Linked DNA regions of Homo sapiens: all the other regions are linked to region 1. Evidence: fine-mapped expression QTL. A gene starts in region 1. Each other region holds a variant in brackets. All regions are shown on one strand. Distances are from middle to middle. Region 1 holds the start of GPD1L (glycerol-3-phosphate dehydrogenase 1 like). Region 2 overlaps GPD1L (glycerol-3-phosphate dehydrogenase 1 like). Region 3 overlaps GPD1L (glycerol-3-phosphate dehydrogenase 1 like).

Evidence for each region. PIP is the estimated chance that this variant, and not a neighbour inherited with it, causes the effect.
Region 2: its variant is the best candidate, but not a certain one, in a credible set for the expression of GPD1L in monocytes (TOPMed, PIP 0.58).
Region 3: its variant is the best candidate, but not a certain one, in a credible set for the expression of GPD1L in prefrontal cortex (CommonMind, PIP 0.89).

Annotation. Positions count from the first base shown.
Region 1 is chr3:32,104,083-32,108,411 of GRCh38, forward strand. It overlaps GPD1L (glycerol-3-phosphate dehydrogenase 1 like), which reads left to right and starts at 2,538. Exons shown (of 8, transcript NM_015141.4): 1 at 2,538-2,676. The coding sequence starts at 2,630. RefSeq lists silencers at 2,271-2,680, 2,801-2,940.
Region 2 is chr3:32,144,002-32,148,001 of GRCh38, forward strand. It overlaps GPD1L (glycerol-3-phosphate dehydrogenase 1 like), which reads left to right. Exons shown (of 8, transcript NM_015141.4): 5 at 2,621-2,733. Among named protein-coding and RNA genes, the nearest start is that of GPD1L, 39 kb to the left of the region's middle. RefSeq lists an enhancer at 3,782-4,000. The variant G/T (reference allele first, on the strand shown) is at 1,763.
Region 3 is chr3:32,167,395-32,171,723 of GRCh38, forward strand. It overlaps GPD1L (glycerol-3-phosphate dehydrogenase 1 like), which reads left to right. Exons shown (of 8, transcript NM_015141.4): 8 at 1-1,315. Among named protein-coding and RNA genes, the nearest start is that of GPD1L, 63 kb to the left of the region's middle. RefSeq lists an enhancer at 1,949-2,606. The variant G/C (reference allele first, on the strand shown) is at 2,531.

The sequences.
Region 1 (4,329 bases):
TTATTTTTGAGACAGGGTCTTGCTCTTTCATTCAGGCTGGAGTGCAGTGGCACAATTACAGTTCACTGCAACCTCGACCTCCTAGGCTCAAGTAATCCCCTCATCTCAGCCTATTCCGACTAGCTGGGACACCCAGCTAATTTTAATTTTTTGTAGAGACACGGTATGTGTTATCCAGCCTGGTCTTGAACTCCTGAGCTCAAGCAATCTTCCCACCCCGGCCTCCCAAAGTGTTGAGATTACAGGTGTGAGCCACCGCGCCTGGCCCCCAGCTGCCTTTAAAAACCCTTACTTGCCAGCCATCAAGGAGGAGCTACCTGATTCTCCTTGCTTGGTACCCTACAGATAAACACCCTTCTTTCTCCCTCTGCAAACCTTGGTGTGGGTATTTGGCCTTACTGTGTCAGGTGAAGGGACCCTAGTTCAGTTAGATAACATAAATATTTGCAGTGTATGTGTACTACCCAAGGACATGACTTCATTATTCAATTTGACAAATGCGTTCTGTTACACAAATACAGAAAGGATTAATAAAGCTTTACTAGTCCATCTTTCCCATTATCCCTGCATGTATCCTTGCATTAGTGCAAATAATTGAGAACAAACCATTGGTGAGGGGATGGAAAGACTGCTCTGACTCACCAGCTCCCTTTAAGTATTTCCTTAAGTAAATATCATAAGTAACACAAATAAATATTTCATACAATGTAGAGAAAAAAGCAAAAATAACAGTTCTCTGAGCATCAAACTAATAGGCTTAGTATTACTATCATTTTTTTGAAACGGAGTGTCGCTCTTGTCGCCCAGGCAAGATCTCGGCTCACTGCAACCTCCGCCTCCCAGGTTCAAGAGATTCTCCTGTCTCAGCCTCCTGAGTAGCTGGGATTACAGGCATCTGCCACCATGCCTGGCTAATTTTTTGTATTTTCAGTAGAGACGGGGTTTTGCCAAGTTGGGCAGACTAGTCTCCATCTCCTGACCTCAGGTGAACTGCCTGCCTCGACCTCCTGAAGTGCTGGGGTTATAGGCGTGAGCCACGGCACCCGGCCTAGGCTTAGTTTTTTGTAGGTACTAGAGTATTTGTTTCTTTAGCCAGAATCCACTGATATTTTAGTCTTCTGGTTCTCAATCTTGGCTTGCTTTTGCAACTACCTCTTGAACTTTAAAAAATTCTGCTCCAGCCTGGGCAACAGAAGGAGACTGTCTCAAAAAATATATGTCAATAAGTAAATATCCTGATGCCTGGATCCCACCATGGGACATTCTGATGTAACTGGCCTGCAATGGTGTCTGGGCATGGGGATTTTTAAAAGCCCCAGTGACTAATATGCAGCAGAGTTTGAGAACCACTGGTTTAAAGGACTTTGTCCTACTCTGACAGCGTCTAGCACAGTGCCTGGCAGAGACTGATGCTCAGAATGAACAAACTAAGATTCTATTTGTCAAGGAGGAGAGCATTGTGTTACTCACAAATGCAAACAAACCACAAGCAAGGGATAAGTCAGGCCCTGGGCAAAGACAATGGTAAAGCAATTCCTGCCAAGTAAGCGTGTGAGGGTGACACCCACTGAATGCAAGCTGTTGTTACCTTTTTCCCTTTATTTTTATGTATTTATTTTTTGTTGAGACAGGGTCTCACTGTCCTTCAGTCTGGAGTGCAGTGGCCCTATCCTGGCTCACTGAAGCCTCGACCTCCTGGGCACATGCAATTCTCCCGCCTCAGCCTCCTGAGTAGCTAGGACTATAGGTGCGTGCCACCATGCTTGGCTAATTTTTTAAATTTTTGTACAGAGGGGTGGGGGGTCCTAATTATGTTGCTCAGGCTGGTCTCGAACTCCTGGGCTCAAGTGATCTTCCTGACTCGGCCTCCAAAAGTGCTGGGATTACAGGTGTGAGCCACTGCACCAGGTCAAGTTTCTATCTTGACTCTAACTAGAAAAGGTGTCATCCTTGAAATGCAGGTACTGTTCAGCCAAATTCCAAAGTCCTCTGAAGATCCAAGTTCTCTAAGAAGTTCAGAGGTGCCAGGCTGTGTCTTGTTTGTGCAAATGAAACAGAGGATGACAAGGTCGGGTGGGCATTTCGAGCTCTGCCCCAAGTCTGGTCGGCTTGAGAGTCAACCTAGGAGCCTCTCTCGGCTCCAAATGGCAATGTGGCAGCCCTTCCCGAGTAGGGAAAAAGGAGCGTGTAGGGGGCACCACGGCAAGCTGGTTGGGTCTGCTCCACCCATGAGGATGGAGTGCAGCCTCCACCGGGAACCAGGGGCGCGAGTCGCTGCTCAGTGGCCTGGGCCTGCATGTGGCGCGGCGGGAGCTGCTGCCTAGGGCCGCGCAGCGACGGGGGGTGAGGACTACATGTCCCGACGTGCCTCGGGCAGGGCGGGGCGGTGCCGGAGCCGGGCCTGGAGGCCGGCCGGGGCCAGGCGTGCGCAGTGGTTCTTGGGAGTGGCGAAGCGGGTCCTGCCCCGCTGTCAGCTGCGGCCCCCGGCGCCGGGCGGGGGTGGCCGCGACCATTGGCGGAGAGGCGAAAGGGGCGGGGCCGCCGCCAGCCGCTGCGGGCAAGGCTGAACAGGCGGAGGTGGGCAGCCGGCCAGGGAAGCACGGTCCAGGCGGCTACATTCGGCCCGGCCATGGCAGCGGCGCCCCTGAAAGTGTGCATCGTGGGCTCGGGGAACTGGTGAGCGGCGGCGGGCTGGAGGCCGGGGCTCCGCTTCCAGGAAGCGCCTCTCCCGGGCGGTGAGGGCTGCGCGCCCCATGCTGCGGCGTGGGCACCGGGCACTGCGCGCAGGGAGGCGGGGTGGGCGACCTCGTTGCTGGGCTGGGCACCGTGCGCCCGAGGAGGCCGCACCGGGGCACTCGCTCGGGAGGCGCTGGGCTCGCGTGCGTGCGGGGGACAGCGCGGAGAGAGGGCACCCCGAGCACGCGGGCACCTGTCTGCGCCCCCGTTACTGAGCGCACAGAAGCCACCTGCTTGCCACGCCTGGGTGTTTTGCACAATATCCTAAGGGCGTATTCCGTTCTCCACGGCGGATCTCCTGGGTCAAGGACTTGGTGGAGGCTCGAGCATTCTTACTGCAGTTTCGGTGTTGAGGAAACCGAGGCGGAGAGGGCTAAAGGGCTCTTGCTGCCCAGGTCACGGGCGGGGCATGCTCTGCCCTTCAAGGTGCCCGTCTCGCCCCCGCTTCTGATAGGTCCACTATCTTAGGCGCGTCGTATCAGGAAGAAAATCCAAGTTTCAACAGGCCGCTCTCCCTGAGGCGTTGAGAATTCTCCCTTGCCGAGATGTTTGCGAAGCTTTGCGTCTCTTTGGGGCCTTATTTGACTTTAACATTTTATAGAGCACATTAGAAATGTCAGTTCTTCTAGTACCCTTAATCAAACGTACACTGTGGGATTCTCTGGTGTGTTTGGGTGAATGTAGAGGTGGGGGTGTGAAGGGGGAAGGAAGCAAAGTGTAGCATCTGGTGTTTCCAAGCCTTTTTTCATTGCTGTACACTCTGCCACATTGGAGGGACTGGTGTACAATAGTTAAGAGTGATGATGTCCTTTCAGTGCTTCTGTTTACCGGTTTTTCTGTGGCGTGACAGGCATCAGAAGTGCTGCAGCAGCTGGTCCTAGGTAGTTGGTCTTAGTTTTACTCTTTCAAGACTTGGCCCAGAAAGTACTTATTGAAGGAAACCTTACCTGGTTCTTCACTTTTCCATCCCAGCAAGGCCAGTGGCCTCTCTCTGTGTCCCTATTGCTGGCCTGCATCACTGCATTATAAGGAGTTATTTGATTATCTGTCTCCCAACTTTTGAGAATGGCATCTACCCTAGTGCCTGGCATATGCTAAGTCAATACTAAGACTCTGTTGCAGTGGTGCGATCTTGGCTCACTGCAACCTCCACCTCCTGGATTCAAGCGATTCTTGTGCCTCATCCACTTGAGTAGCTGGGATTACAGGTGTGAGCCACCGCTCCCTGCCTAAAAACTAATTTTTAAAACCATAATGATATTTGATTGAATAATACATTCACATTGTTTAACAACCAGGGCTGGGCGCAGTAGCTTATGCCTGTAATCCCAGCACTTTGGGAGGCTGAGGTGGGCCCAGGAGTTTGAGACTAGCCTGGGCAACACGGCAAAACCCCGCCTCTACAAAAAATAAAATATTAGTCGGGCATGGTGGCTCACGCTTGTAATCCCAGCACTTTGGGAGGCTGAGGCAGGGGGATCACGAGGTCAGGAGATTGAGACCACGGTGAAACCCCGTCTCTACTGAAAATACAAAAAATTAGCCAGGTGTGGTGGCAGGCGCCTGTAGTCCCGGCTACTTGGGATGCTAAGG
Region 2 (4,000 bases), 40 kb after region 1:
TGAGCACTATGTGCAGTGTGGGGTCCTGGATTAGGCAGGGAGGGTTGCTGTGGAAGACAATGCAGAGGTGATTGGTGAGGTTTGAATGTGGATTATATGTTAGATAATAATATTATGTAAACATTACATTTTCTGTATTTGATCATTGCAGTGTGGTTATCCAGACATCCTTTGTTGATGCATAGGGACTATTTTAAATTGCGGTAGGTTCAGGAATCGTGGCCCACTTGAATCTTCTGTGGAGGGAAAAGATAGGGCAGCTTCAGGCCTCAAAATCCTGTCATGGTGAACTACAGTGCCCTCTTGTGGTAAGGTCTCCTTTCGTTCTTGGGGCATACCACAGACTCTGAGGCTTTTAATCCAGTCATTCCACAAATATTTTTCAAACCCTCTTATGTATCAGGCATGGTGCCAAATGTCTAGAATACATAAGCTCCTTATGGAACTTGTAAGCACACAAACACATATGGAATCACAAACTAAAATAAGGGTTTTGAAGGAGTTTTATTACATAGGTTAATTGCCTCTAAAACTTGGTGTGACAGAGAAAGGGGATTTTCCTGTCTTTGGTTTACATTGAGTTTTGGGCAACCTTCCCACATGGCTGTCCGGCATTAGCTGTTCTGTACAGATGCCCTGAGTCCCTGCTTGCCATGTCACTGTTTATTACTGGGGTTTGTTGTTGTTGTTGTTGTTGTTTTTGAGATGGAGTCTCACGCTGTTGCCCAGGCTGGAGTGCAGTGGCGTGATCTCGGCTCACAGCAACCTCCGCCCCCTGGGCTCAAATGATTCTAATGCCTCAGCCTCCTGAGTAGCTGGGAACACACACACACACACACACACACACACACACCACCACGCCAGGCTAATTTTTGAATTTTTTGTAGAGATGGGATTTCGCCATGCTGACCAGGCTGGTCTCGAACTCCTGACCTCAAGTAATCCACTTACCTGAGCCTCCCAAAGTGCTGGGATTACAGGCATGAGCCACCGCGCTGGCTTATGACTGGTATTATATTAATAATAAAATTCGCGGGCCGGGTGCGGTGGCTCATGCCTTTAATCCCAGCACTTGGGAAGGCCAAGGCAGGTGGATTGCTGGAGGTCAGGAGTTCGAGACCAGCCTGGCCAACATGGCGAAACCCCATCTTTACTAAAAATACAAAACTTAGCCGAGTATGGTGGCGCATGCCTATAGTTGCAGCTACTCAGGAGGCTGAGGCGGGAGAATCGCTTGAGCTTGGGAGGTGGAGGTTGCAGTGAGCTGAGATAGTGCCACTGCACTCTAGCCTGGGCAACACAGCAACTCTGTCTCATAAATAAATAAATAAAGTTACTACCTATTATCCATGATTTAAGGTAATAAATTTTAAAAGGTACCTTTGAGAAAATATGAGATTGCTATAAATCAAGCCCACCTCTTGGATGGGCATTGCGTTATTTGCAGCCACAAAGGAACCCATAGACCCTACCTTGTATCTATGGCAAGCCAAGAGTGTGCCTTCCCCTGCCCATTCCTCAGTTTGTTCACCAGCAACCCAAGTTTCCAGCTGCAGATGGCTGGATTAAAGTGACTTGAGGGAGGGGCTGGTCTGCAATGTTCAGGAGCATGCTTCATGTTGGAGGCACTGAGCAGTGGGAGGAGACACGATGAGGCTGTAATATGATGTAGGGGCCAGGGGCTGGTTTACCCAACCCAGATGATGCAACAGTGTTGCACAGAGTCACCTAGACAGCCTGGTGGACTGTTTAAAAAGGAAGA[G/T]AACAGTTTGCACAAACTGACATAGTTCTAACATTTGGAAAAGGGGAACTCAGCTAAATGAAAGAACAGTAATGCTACAGAGTAGACTGTGTTTCTAAGTATTGGGTGTAGATATTGTGTTTTATTATGAAACTTTTCAGAAAAGTAGAGTAGTATCACGAACCTCACATGCCCGTCACCCATCTTTAGAAATGATTAACTCCTGGCCAGTCTCATTTCATCCACTCCCCACCCTCTCTCAACCCTCAGATGGCCTGGATTATTTTGACATTGTGTCACTTCTTGGTGTAGTTTTACTTGTTGACAATCATGCTTTTTTCTTTTTTTTTTTTTTTTTTTTTGAGACAGAGTCTCGCTCTGTTGCCCAGGATGGAGTGCAGTGGTGAGATCTCAGCTCACTACAGCCTCCACCTCCTGGGTTCAAGCGATGCTCCTGCCTCAACCTCCTGAGTAGCTGGGACCACAGGTACGTGCCACCACGCCCAGCTAATTTTTTGTATTTTTAGTAGAGATGGGGTTTCACCATGTTAGCCAGGATGGCTTCAATCTCTTGACCTCGTGATCTGCCCGCCTCAGCCTCCCAAAGTGCTGGGATTACAGGTGTGAGTCATCGTGTCTGGCCAAAAAAAACTTTAGATTCACATTCGGTCAGTTAAAAATGTATGTCAAATTGTAAATGATCACCTCGATTGGAAACGGGATATTTTTACTTTATTTCTGCTCCTATGTGTTTTCTAAATATCCTATCATGAACATGTTACTTTTATAGTAAGTAGAAACTTATTTTAAAGTGTATTAGGTGTGAAAATTAAGATTAGAGGCTGTTATTAATATCCTTGTTGTCTAACCTTTCAACAGGCAGCAAAGTAATGGAGAACGGCCTTCTCTTCAAAGAACTTCTGCAGACTCCAAATTTTCGAATTACCGTGGTTGATGATGCAGACACTGTTGAACTCTGTGGTGCGCTTAAGGTAAAGTCAGCCTCAGGGGAGGAGTTCATCAAGCAAGGCAAATGTTAGCATCATTGAGTCTAATCCTCAAGAATGGGCTCTGTGTTCTGTGCACCCACATCAGCGAAGAATAGTGAATTGAGAGTCTTGTTTATAACTTCCTGTTTTGCTGCAGCCTTTCCCGGGTGGTTCAGTTCCTCTCTTACTCGTGGCTTGCTTTAACTTGTAAATATGGGGGAATTGTGATGTTTTGGTCTTTGGGAAGTTGGCAGCATTGATATTTGGAAAGCATGGGAGTTCCTTGATGACAGGGTTTCACCCAGGAGCAAATGATTCTATTCATTCATGTTTTTCTCCCACACTTCATCCTGAGCAGGAAAAGGAACTTGTTTCCTCTGAATTATGCTACTCTACTAGTTTGGCTGGTTGTTCTTATTAAGGGAAAAAATAATCTGCTGCTGGTAGAGGTTTTTCTAAGAATAGTTTTGTCTTTGCCCTCAAGAGAGAGAAGATGTGATTAAAGAAATGCACTCCACTGGCCAGTGGCTTGCTGGATTTTTGTAAGTGGAACTGTACAGTATGCACTCTTTTGTGTCCGGCTTCTTTGATTGGAGGTGTATTTTTGTTTGTTTTAATGTAAATTTTAAGAGGTACTTCATACAGAAAAGTACAAAAATCATAAGTATGTAGTTTATGTTATCTTTTTTTCCCCTCTTTTGAGGTAAAGGGAGGTCTCCACACCTGGGCTCCTGACTTGTTGGCTGCTGTCTTTTAAAGCCTTAGGCACTGTCCCTCTCTCTGCCGTGACTTGGGGGAACAACCAACAGGGAACAGCAGCAGCTACCTGCTCATTCCCCCTCACTATCTAAGTTGCCTTTATTTCACTATCATCTACAAAAAAGAGTGGGGGGAATAGGGGAAATAAAAAGTTCTCAATGTGAATGCCCCTTTTGAGCCACTTCTGAGTCATCTCTTTTGCAGCAAAAAGCCACCCTTCAGAAATTTGAGCATCTAGGGAAGAGGTTAGGCAATCCACCAGTCACCTGTCTTTATTGGATGGGAGTTGCAAAGGTGGAAAGAATGCCTGTCTATGCTTTCTCATAAATTGTATATGTTTTTTTCTAGTCAGAAGTTAAAACCACTCTCTAGAATTAACATTGTGTATATATGTGTGGTCATGATATATAATGAGCATTTAAAAAAATTAAAGCCAATTAAAGGCCTGGGCTCCTAGGGAGCACACATGCATATTTCTAAGCGCCTGTGTGGGGCATTCTTTGCATTAGCA
Region 3 (4,329 bases), 63 kb after region 1:
AAGTAGACCCTTCACTCCCTGCGAGAAATTAGGATGAATAACTACCTGTGGCATTGTTGGTTCTGAACTTTTACAGTTCAGGCCTGCTGTGAATCTTTGATGAAGCTTTAAGGTGACACTGTTGTACAAGATGTCAGCTTTGCTGAAACGCACATTACCTGGAATAAGTGCTTTAATTGTAGAATTAGAATGGGATTTACTGTACTGTTTTAAATGAGATTGGCTTCAGAATCCATTACAGTTACCTTACATAGCACTTGATACGTGTTAAATGAACATATGAATGTAATTTATATATTCCTAGAATTTAAGTTACTTTGTGAGATTTGGGCCTGTCCCTCAATGCCAGTTTAGGATTTCTTTTTTTCTATACCTTGAAATGATTATAAAATAGATTTTCATGGGAATTTTAAAAACTCTATCCAAAACATTTTTGGAGCATTTTAAAGCCCCATACACAGAAGTATACGAAAGCACACAAAACACTCCAAGTTTCAGCAGTTTTAGCGCCACCATTAACCCACTTTGCTTGTCTCATGAAAAATCTTTGTTAAAGTTTGTACACAGGTAACAAAAAGTTACTTTAAAAGATATATAAAGGGCTGTAAGCTAATTGTGGTGTCTAGTAAGTAGCATAATGAGATGTGAGGAGTTGGAACTTTGCGTGTTTTGCGTATTTTCATCTGCATTCAGCTTCTTACTCTGGGTTTGTACTCGAGTGTTATTTCTTTACAAATGCCCTTGTAATTACCACTCTGAAGTCTGCTGACTGTGTCTCTTGAACATACTTAGGATATTCTGCACATTATGGAAAAAGGTAAATTTTAGAAGTTTCTGCTCTACTAACTGTAGATATTTATGACTCTGCGAGTTATCTATTTTTATAACCACCTGTGGTCCATTGTTCATTTTAATTCACATTTCTTATGAAGTATGGTAACAGGGAGGGAGACACCTAGATTAGCAGCTCAATTTGTACTACTTCAGCCAATCTGTGAATGTAAAAACTACACTGTTGCCTTGCTAGGATCCACCCTCCTATAATATGGAACAAATATCTGAATGAAATCCACCCTAGGAGACGGAGTCAAACTAAACTTGTGGTTTTTCATTTAACTTTTGACTACAGCATGGCCCCATGGCATCCACACCAAGAGGGTGTTGTGATGAGGTGCCGGTGTGCAAAGGGAACTTTAGTTTTTCCACTGGTTCTTATCTGCTAGCCTTTTACATACATGTGTACTATATTTGTTTATAGACTGTAGGTGGATATATAATTTAAAAGCTTGATTTAATAAACATTTAACCCCCTAAACTTGCACCGTGGATCCTGTTTTTCTTTTTATCAGCTTAGGTAATCATTTTATTTGTCGGCTTTTTCTTTTTTCCTGAACTGTGTTTCATTACCAATATCAAAAACAGTTTTCAACAGAAGGGCTTCATCTCTAATCCCAGGCCTTAAATGCATCTGTTTTTATTGTTTACTGATATTTTTATACAATTGCAGTTTAGGATGGAGACCTTCTAGTGAATTTGAAATCCCCTTCTCCCCACTCCATGTATACCTTTAAAAGCTGGGAAAATATAACCAGTGCTGATCTCGTAAAAATGTAAGGGAGCTCTCCCTCTACCTCTACCTCTACCTCTCTACCTCTCTACCTCTCTACCTCTCTACCTCTCTACCTCTCTACCTCTACCTCTACCTCTCCGTCTCCCTCTCTTTCCACGGTCTCCCTCTGATGCTGAGCCGAAGCTGGACTGTACTGCTGCCATCTCGGCTCACTGCAACCTCCCTGCCTGATTCTCCTGCCTCAGCCTGCCGAGTGCCTGCGATTGCAGGCGCGCGCCGCCACGCCTCACTGGTTTTCGTATTTTTTTGGTGTAGACGGGGATTCGCTGTGTTGGCTGGGCTGGTCTCCAGCTCCTAACCGCGAGTGATCCGCCAGCCTCGGCCTCCCGAGATGCCAGGATTGCAGACGGAGTCTGGTTCACTCAGTGCTCAATGGTGCCCAGGCTGGAGTGCAGTGGCGTGATCTCGGCTCGCTACAACCTCCACCTCCCAGCCGCCTGCCTTGGCCTTCCAAAGTGCCAAGAGTGCAGCCTCTGCCCGGCCGCCACCCCATCTGGGAAGTGAGGAGCGTCTCTGCCTGGCCGCCCATCGTCTGGGACGTGAGGAGCCCCTCTGCCTGGCTGCCCCGTCTGGAAAGTGAGGAGCATCTCTGCCCGGCCGCCATCCCATCTAGGCAGTGAGGAGCGCCTCTTCCCGGCCGCCATCCCATCTAGGAAGTGAGGAGCGTCTCTGCCCGGCCGCCCGTCGTCTGAGATGTGGGGAGCGCCTCTGCCCCGCCGCCCCATCTGGGAGGTGAGGAGACCCTCCGCCTGGCAACCGCCCCGTCTGAGAAGTGAGGAGCCCCTCCGCCCGGCAGCCACCCCGTCTGGGAAGTGAGGAGCGTCTCCGCCCGGCAGCCACCCCGTCCGGGAAGGAGGTGGGGGTCAGCCCTTGCCAGGCCAGCCGCCCCGTCCGGGAAGG[G/C]GGGGGGGTCAGCCCCCGGCCCGGCCAGCCACCCCGTCCGGGAGGGAGGTGGGGGGGTCAGCCCCCCGCCCGGCCAGCTGCCCCGTCCGGGAGGTGAGGGGTGCCTCTGCCTGGCCACCCCTACTGGGAAGTGAGGAGCCCCTCTGCCCGGCCACCACCCCGTCTGGGAGGTGTACCCAACAGCTCATTGAGAATGGGCCATGATGACAATGGCGGTTTTGTGGAATGGAAATGGGGGAAAGGTGGGGAAAAGATTGAGAAATCGGATGGTTGCCGTGTCTGTGTAGAAAGAAGTAGACATGGGAGACTTTTCATTTTGTTCTCTACTAAGAAAAATTCTTCTGCCTTGGGATCCTGTTGATCTGTGACCTTACCCCCAACCCTGTGCTCTCTGAAACATGTGCTGTGTCCACTCAGGGTTAAATGGATTAAGGGCGGTGCAAGATGTGCTTTGTTGAACAGATGCTTGAGGGCAGCATGCTCGTTAAGAGTCATCACCACTCCTTAATCTCAAGTGCCCAGTGACACAGACACTGCGGAGGGCCGCAGGGTCCTCTGCCTAGGAAAACCAGAGACCTTTGTTCACTTGTTTATCTGCTGACCTTCCCTCCACTATTGTCCTGTGACCCTGCCAAATCCCCCTCTGCGAGAAACACCCAAGAATGATCAATAAAAAAAAAAAAAAATGTAAGGGAAATTCCTAGAATCCTGAAACAAATAGGGGACTGATTGCCAGAGTCGAAAGAATTGAGTTGTGAAGCTTATGCTACACGAGAGCCCACCAAAGGCTATGTTGTCAGGGAAAAAAATGAAATAAGAAAACCCAGGTAGAGGTACAAACAAAGAAGCTGGGCTCCATGTGAGAAAAATGTTTTGTTTTGTTTGCTACAGAGTCTTGCTCTGTCACCCAGTGGTGGCACACACCTGTGGTCCCAGCTACTCGGGGCTGAGGTGGGAGGATCACCTGAGCCCAGGACGGTTGAGGCTGCAGTGAGCAGAGATCATGCCACTGCACTCCAGCCTGGGAGATAGAGCAGTGAGACACTGTCTTGAAAAGATAAATAAAATAGTTGAAAAATAATTCATTATGAGTGAAAACCAACAGATTTTTAAAAACAGAGTTAGAACCGTAGGATTTCAGATAATTTGAGTAATACGATAGATGCTTTTTTAAAATCATTTGAAATCCTTTATAGAGATGGGGGTCTTACTATGTTGCCCAGACTCGACTGCAGTGGTGTGATCATAGCTCACTGCAGCCTCCAACTCCTGGGCCCAAGCAGTCCTCCTGCCTCAGCCTCCAAGTAGCTAAGACTCCAGGGGCATGGTACCACACCCAGCTTTTTTTTTAAAGTAAAGATAGGGTCTTGCTATGTTGCCCAGTCTGGTCTCAAACTCCTGGCCTCAAGCAATCCTCCTGTCTTGGCCTCCCAAAGCCCTGGTACTACAAGCATGAGCCTGGCCAGATGCTTTGAAAGATATTTTTAAAAATAAAGGCATAAAAGAAGGATTAAAAAATAAATTGTATGGGAGGAAAAAAAAAAAGAACCCAGCCAGGCAGATTTGAAAAGGAACCTATTCAAACATTTAGGAATGAATATAATCATTTGAAGTTTAAAAATAGGCAGATGGAAAGATTAAAGACTAGATTTGACAGAGCTGCAGATGGAATTGGCAAACTGGAAAATAGATCTGAGGATATTAAAGTAGCAAAGAAAATATTTGAGAATTTAAAGATTAAGTGGAAGATAGAATAGGACTTGAACATACATCTGATAGGAGTTACAGAAGAGAGAAAA